Linked DNA regions of Homo sapiens: region 2 is linked to region 1. The links come from fine-mapping of genetic effects on gene expression. A gene starts in region 1. The other region holds a variant in brackets. All regions are shown on one strand. Distances are between the middles of the regions. Region 1 holds the start of OSGIN1 (oxidative stress induced growth inhibitor 1). Region 2 has its middle 20 kb from the start of OSGIN1.

The links. PIP is the estimated chance that this variant, and not a neighbour inherited with it, causes the effect.
Region 2: its variant is the best candidate, but not a certain one, in a credible set for the expression of OSGIN1 in testis (GTEx, PIP 0.66).

Annotation. Positions count from the first base shown.
Region 1 is chr16:83,951,882-83,954,381 of GRCh38, forward strand. OSGIN1 (oxidative stress induced growth inhibitor 1) reads left to right here and starts at 1,359. Exons shown (of 6, transcript NM_182981.3): 1 at 1,359-1,489. RefSeq lists a silencer at 1,634-1,683 and an enhancer at 2,172-2,500.
Region 2 is chr16:83,931,245-83,934,250 of GRCh38, forward strand. No RefSeq gene overlaps it. Among named protein-coding and RNA genes, the nearest start is that of OSGIN1, 20 kb to the right of the region's middle. The variant T/C (reference allele first, on the strand shown) is at 1,397.

The DNA.
Region 1 (2,500 bases):
TTCCTCCTTCCTCCTTCTCTCCCTGCTTTCCTCCCTCCTTCCCTCCCTACTTCCCTCCCTCCCTGCCTTCCTCCCTCCTTCCCCCCCTGCTTCCCTCCCTACCTCCTTCCTTCCCTCCCTCCTTCCCTCCCTGCTTTCCTCCCTCCTTCCCTCCCTACTTCCCTCCCTCCCTGCCTTCCTCCCTCCTTCCCCCCCTGCTTCCCTCCCTCCCTGCCTCCCTTCTGTTTAACCGATGTTGAGTGCCTATGTGTCCTAAGCGCTGTTCTAGACACTGTGTAGAGCAGTCACGAATATACTTCCCTGCCCACACAGAGCTCACATTCTGGTTTGGGAAGAGAGACAATAAAATAATTCAGAAATAGGCCAGGTGTGGCATCTCACGCCTGTAATCCCAGCACTTTGGAAGGCTGAGGCGGGCGGATCATCTGAGGTCGGGAGTTCGAGACCAGCCTTGCCAACATGGTGAAACCCTATCTCTACCAAAAATACAAAATTAGCCGGGCGTGGTGGCACATGCCTGTAATCTCAGCTACTCAGGAGGCTGAGGCAGGGGAATCACTTGAGCCCGGGAGGCGTAGGTTGCAGTGAACCGAGATCGCGCCATTGCACCCCAGCCTGGGAAACAAGAGCGAAACTCCTTCTCAAAATAATAATAATTAAGAAACAGCAAGGTGTGGGGTGTGCAGTGCTACCCACATAAAACAGGAGAGAAGAGCCTGGGAGCAGGCTTCAAGTTCTAAGCATGGCAGACAAGAAGGATGTCATGTAAACCCTCACGGCCACTCTGGTAGAGACAATCTGTGACTTGGCCCCAGTTTTCAGATGAGGAAACTGAGGTGCGGGCCCTAAGGCAGCTTGCCAGAGCCCTGCAGCTGGGAAATGGCAAAGCTGGATTCGCAGCCCAGGCAGGCTGGTGCCAGAGGGCTTTTGGGGATTGGAGGGTGCAGTGAAATCCAGGTGGAATGCGGGAACTGGACGGGGTTTCGCCACTTAAAGGTACTGTTATTTTAACTGTGTGCGGGACAAAGCCATCTCCTCTTCGCTTATGGCAAAGGCCAGGCTGGCTCATTCAGAGGTCACTGGTTCCTCCTCCAGAGACTGAGCCCCAGGGATGGGGGTCTGGCTAGGGGGAGGTGGCTGGGAGGGAGCGCCACCCTAGGCCCCCTGGCAGGCCGCCCAGCAGGGGCCCTTTAAGGCTGGCCATGAGGCAGGCAGCGTGACACCCGCCCAGTGTGCAAGTTCATTCATCACGGGCCCCTGCTGACTCACGCTTATGAAAGTGATTTTCCTGGCCCCGCCCACTGCCTGCGCCGCCTCCTCCCTCCCCGTGAAATACCCTCACTTCCCTCTGGCCTCTCAGAGCCTCTTGGATCCCCACAGGGTAATGGGTGTCCCGATCTCGCGGGGGACTCTGTGATCCGTGTTCCCCTGACCCTCCTAGTGCACAACTTGGCCGGGCTCACTGGGCTCCTGCACCACTGCCTGTCAGGTGAGTGTCCGGGGCCAGGTTCCGGGGCAGGGAATCAGGCACATCCCAGGCACCCGTGGCAAGCCCAGCTGGACCGGAGGGTCTGCAGAGCCCTGGCGCCAGGCGGGGGTCCCGGGTGGTCCTGAGTGGAGGCCCTCGCCTGGGTTCTCTGGAGCCCGGCAGGATTCTCCCCTACACCAGGTTCCTCCCAGATCCTCAGCTGTGTCCCTGTCCAGGTGCCTGGTACCCTCAGCCAAGCAGCTGAAGCGGCCACAGTCCCAGCGTACCCTGGGCCATGTGACCGCCGCTCCTAGCAGGAAAGAGGGGTGTGGCCAGCCCGGGCTTACTGCCCAGCTGTTCCAAGGCCACTGGGTCGGCAGCCAGGCTGGGTGCCTTCTGGGTTTCTGCTTCTCCTGCTCAGGAGGGACAGAGCCCTTGGGTGCCCATGAACAGCCCCCATCCCTGGAGGTCCCAGCGACTTAGCTTCTCTCAGGAGGCTCAAGAGTGCGGCGGGTTGGGAGGGCGGCCCCTGGGAGGCTGGGGAGCTGCAGGAGACCCTGGGCTCCAGGTGTGCGGCACTGGGGCGAGGGCTCGTCTGTGATAAATGGCAAGTGCCGCTTGCGTGGACAGACCACCCCCTCACACTTTAGCGCCCCCAGGGCTTCGTGTCACTTTCTTGGTCTCCCTGTAATCAGCTGTTTTACTGGAGGGGACTTGGCAGAACTAAGATTTGTCACATGGCCGTGGTCTTGGACCCTCCTAGGTGACCTGGGGCAAGACGCCCACTCCTCCTGACCAGCTTTTCTTCCTCTGCACAATGGGGATAAGAACACCCACCTCCTGGGGTGTCTTCAAAGGCAAAGGAGTAAATGGCCACTAGAGGTGCCAAAGAAACGCAGACATACAGGTGTCCCAGAGTCTCAGAGCAGTTTGCAGCTTTAACAACCTCAGAAGTACAAATGCCGCACACTTGAAAGAAACGTCAGTCGAAGGTGCAACTGTTTTCATTTCTTTTATCCTGTTTGCCTTTGT
Region 2 (3,006 bases), 20 kb before region 1:
GCAGGACTTTGTGATGCGACAAACGGCCCAGCCTGGCCTCTTGTCCCCCAGCTCCCCTGTTACCACGTCGGGGGGGTGTCCCCTGGGGGAGGGCCAACCCCAGTGTGTCCACTCCTCCCCGGCCAAACTGGTCACCTCTGTCACCTCTGCTGCACCCGGCCCCTTCGTTGTCAGGTAAGGAGGGCCTGGAGCAGGGAGGGGCAGGGGCTGCTCCAGGAAGGGGTGAGGTGTGCTGGGGGGCCTGGTAGGGCCAGGCAGGAGGAGGGGCTCCTGGGCGGTGGCCCTGGAGGCAGGAGGCTCAGCTTGTGGACTCTGGGGTGCAGGTGGCCTGGGTGGGAACCTGGTGCTGTTGCTTGCCCGTCGTGTGATCTTGGGACAGTGCCATAACCTGTGAGCTGCCATCTCCCTGGCAGTAAAATGGCTCCTCGGGTCTCTTCCTCGCAGGGGTCCTGGGAGGTGAAGTGAGCCCCTCCACGGGAGGCCCTGGCACTCGCCCCACGTGCAGACCGCGCTCGATACACATCGCCCATAGTCATCAGGCCCCGGAACCGACCGCCACTCATGCCTATCTCAGCCAGGCTTGGGCGCTGTCCTCTGGTCACCAGCCCCTCGTTGATTCCCCACCCACTGCCATGCTGGGGCCTGGCCCCTTCATCCTGGTGGATGGGGGAGAGCGGACAGCAGGAGCAGGTCTCCCCAGCATGCCTCTTTGCGTCTACATCCTGTCATTCTCAGCTGGCTGTGGGTGGCACTCACCTGGGGGAGGCTTGGGTCCCCGGCAGAGGCCTAGCATTAGGTTTTCTGACCCTGAGTCTCATCTGTGAACGAGCTTGCCCAGGGGACTCTGTGTGCCCCACAGTGTGTGACTCAGAGAATAAACTACAGGCCCTCCAAGGACGCCCATGGCCACCCCCAGCCTGTCCCACCACAGAACGGCAGATGCTGCAGCCTCACCGGGCTTTTGGTTCCCGTGTTCAAGACCATCCCCTTCTCTGTCCAGCGAGCTCCATTCAGGGCTGAGCAAGAATGGCCTCCAGGATCCCACAAGGAAAGGCGGGGCTGCGGTTTGAACCCAGATCTCTCCAGACTGTTCCACTACAACCCATGGCTGCCCATGAGAACCACCTGGAAAGCTTTGGACAACACCGAAACCCAGTTCCCAACCCCAGACCGCAAGTAGAGTCCCTGGTCAGGGGCCCCACCCAGCCCTGTGATCCCAGCTCCACCAGCAGAGGCAGCAGATCGGGGGTCCAGGGCCTCAGTGCACTCCCATCCCCGTCGGGGTGCTCCGGCCCTGCTCCTCCACCCCTCAGCCCTGGCTCCCAGCACTCCAGACTCACACTTGGTTTTGGAGTCTTTGCCCAGGAGTAACCCCCAAACGTGTCCTGGTCCTTCC[T/C]ACGGTGGCAGGCACTGGGGAACCCTCAGCTCTGAGTGTGGGAACACGTGCTGGGACTTATCGGCGTGGTAGGTCCAGCCAGGTTTGAAGTTGGACAGGCCCACTCCCTGGAGAGACACCTGGTCCCATGCACACACAAAGGCCACGGAGCCTGTTAGGTGGAGGCTCCTGGGGCCTCAGCTGCTCCGACCTCACCTCAGGAGGCTCAGCCGCTCTGACCCCACCCCCGCCACTTCCTGGCAGGATGACCTTGGGAAGGCTGTTTTGCCTCAGTTTCCTCATCTGTAAAATGCCTAGAACGGCAGCTCCCTCATGAGGAGGCTGAGACACCCCACGGTGTAACACAGGAAAGATGCTGAGCTCTGCCGGTGTGGTGGGGAGCGATGAGTGCTCCAGAAACGGTCCCCACGCTCCACTGTGTGCCGGAGCCTCTGCACTTGGGCCACCGTTTCCTGCGCCTTCTGTAGGAGCAGCATGGCCTTGGCGCACGCTCGCCCTGCGTGAGCATGGTGTCACTCTCCTCCCGTGCCGTCTCTTTCCCATTTTAAACATCTCCAAGGTTGACAGCAAAGGCTTCTGGGGCTCCAGGGTCACAGCCAAGGGCAGATGAGATCAAGTACAGCCACACTGCCACCCTTGTTCCCTTCATTTTGTGAGACTTCGCCTCCGGCAAACACGAGGCCCAGAATGTTCCACCAGGGTAGCAGCAGGTGCCCAGCTTGGGGAGGGAAGAGGCGCCGAGCGACCCCCCCAGCCCCTGCCCTGCGCATGCCCCTTGTCTCCTCGATGCGCCTCCCCCACCTCTACAGGGCCGGCAGCTGTGCTGGAGCCCAGACCTGAAACTGGAAGGAAAGATGATCCTCCACAGACTTCTCATCAATCCTTTTGCCGGGGTTTAATCCCCCTGCAATTCCTCCTGAATGAGTTTCCTGTACCTGACATCACCAGTGACCACAAACTAAGTGGCTTAAAGCAACAGAAATGTACCCTCTCATCATCTGGAGCAGAAGTCAAAATTCAAGGCATCAGCAGGACCCCCGCCCTCTGGAGCTTCCAGGGAAGGATCTTCGTTGACTCCTCCGGCTTCAGGGGGCTCCAGGCGTCCCTTGGTTCTAACCGCTGCCTCTGTGGTCTTGTGGCCGCCTTCCCTGGGTCCTCAGATCCCCCCCTTGCATATAAGGACACTTGTCGTGGGATATGGGGCCCACCCTAAATCCAGGATGGTCTCATTCGAAGATCCCTAACTGAATGAATTCTGTAAAGACCCCTTTTCCAATCAAGGCCGCATTTACAGATTCCCGACACGTCACTGGGAAGCCACCATTTGGTCCTCAACATCCCGTCTCCTCCGCCCCCAGATGCGACGGCGTCTCAGCAGCGACTTGGAGCCATGCAGGGTTTCTGTTGTGGTTGTTCACTTGGGTAAGCTTCCTGCTCTTACCGACAGTGGATGACACACTCCCCACTCCCACGCCACTTCATGTTCCTTCGGGAGCGGAGGGGGTTGGAAGAATAAACACCCAGATCTTCAAGACGTAAAGTCCCTTGCAGAGAACCCAGACCGGCCCCCTTATTTATGGATGAGAATCCTGAAGCCCAGATTGTGGCTT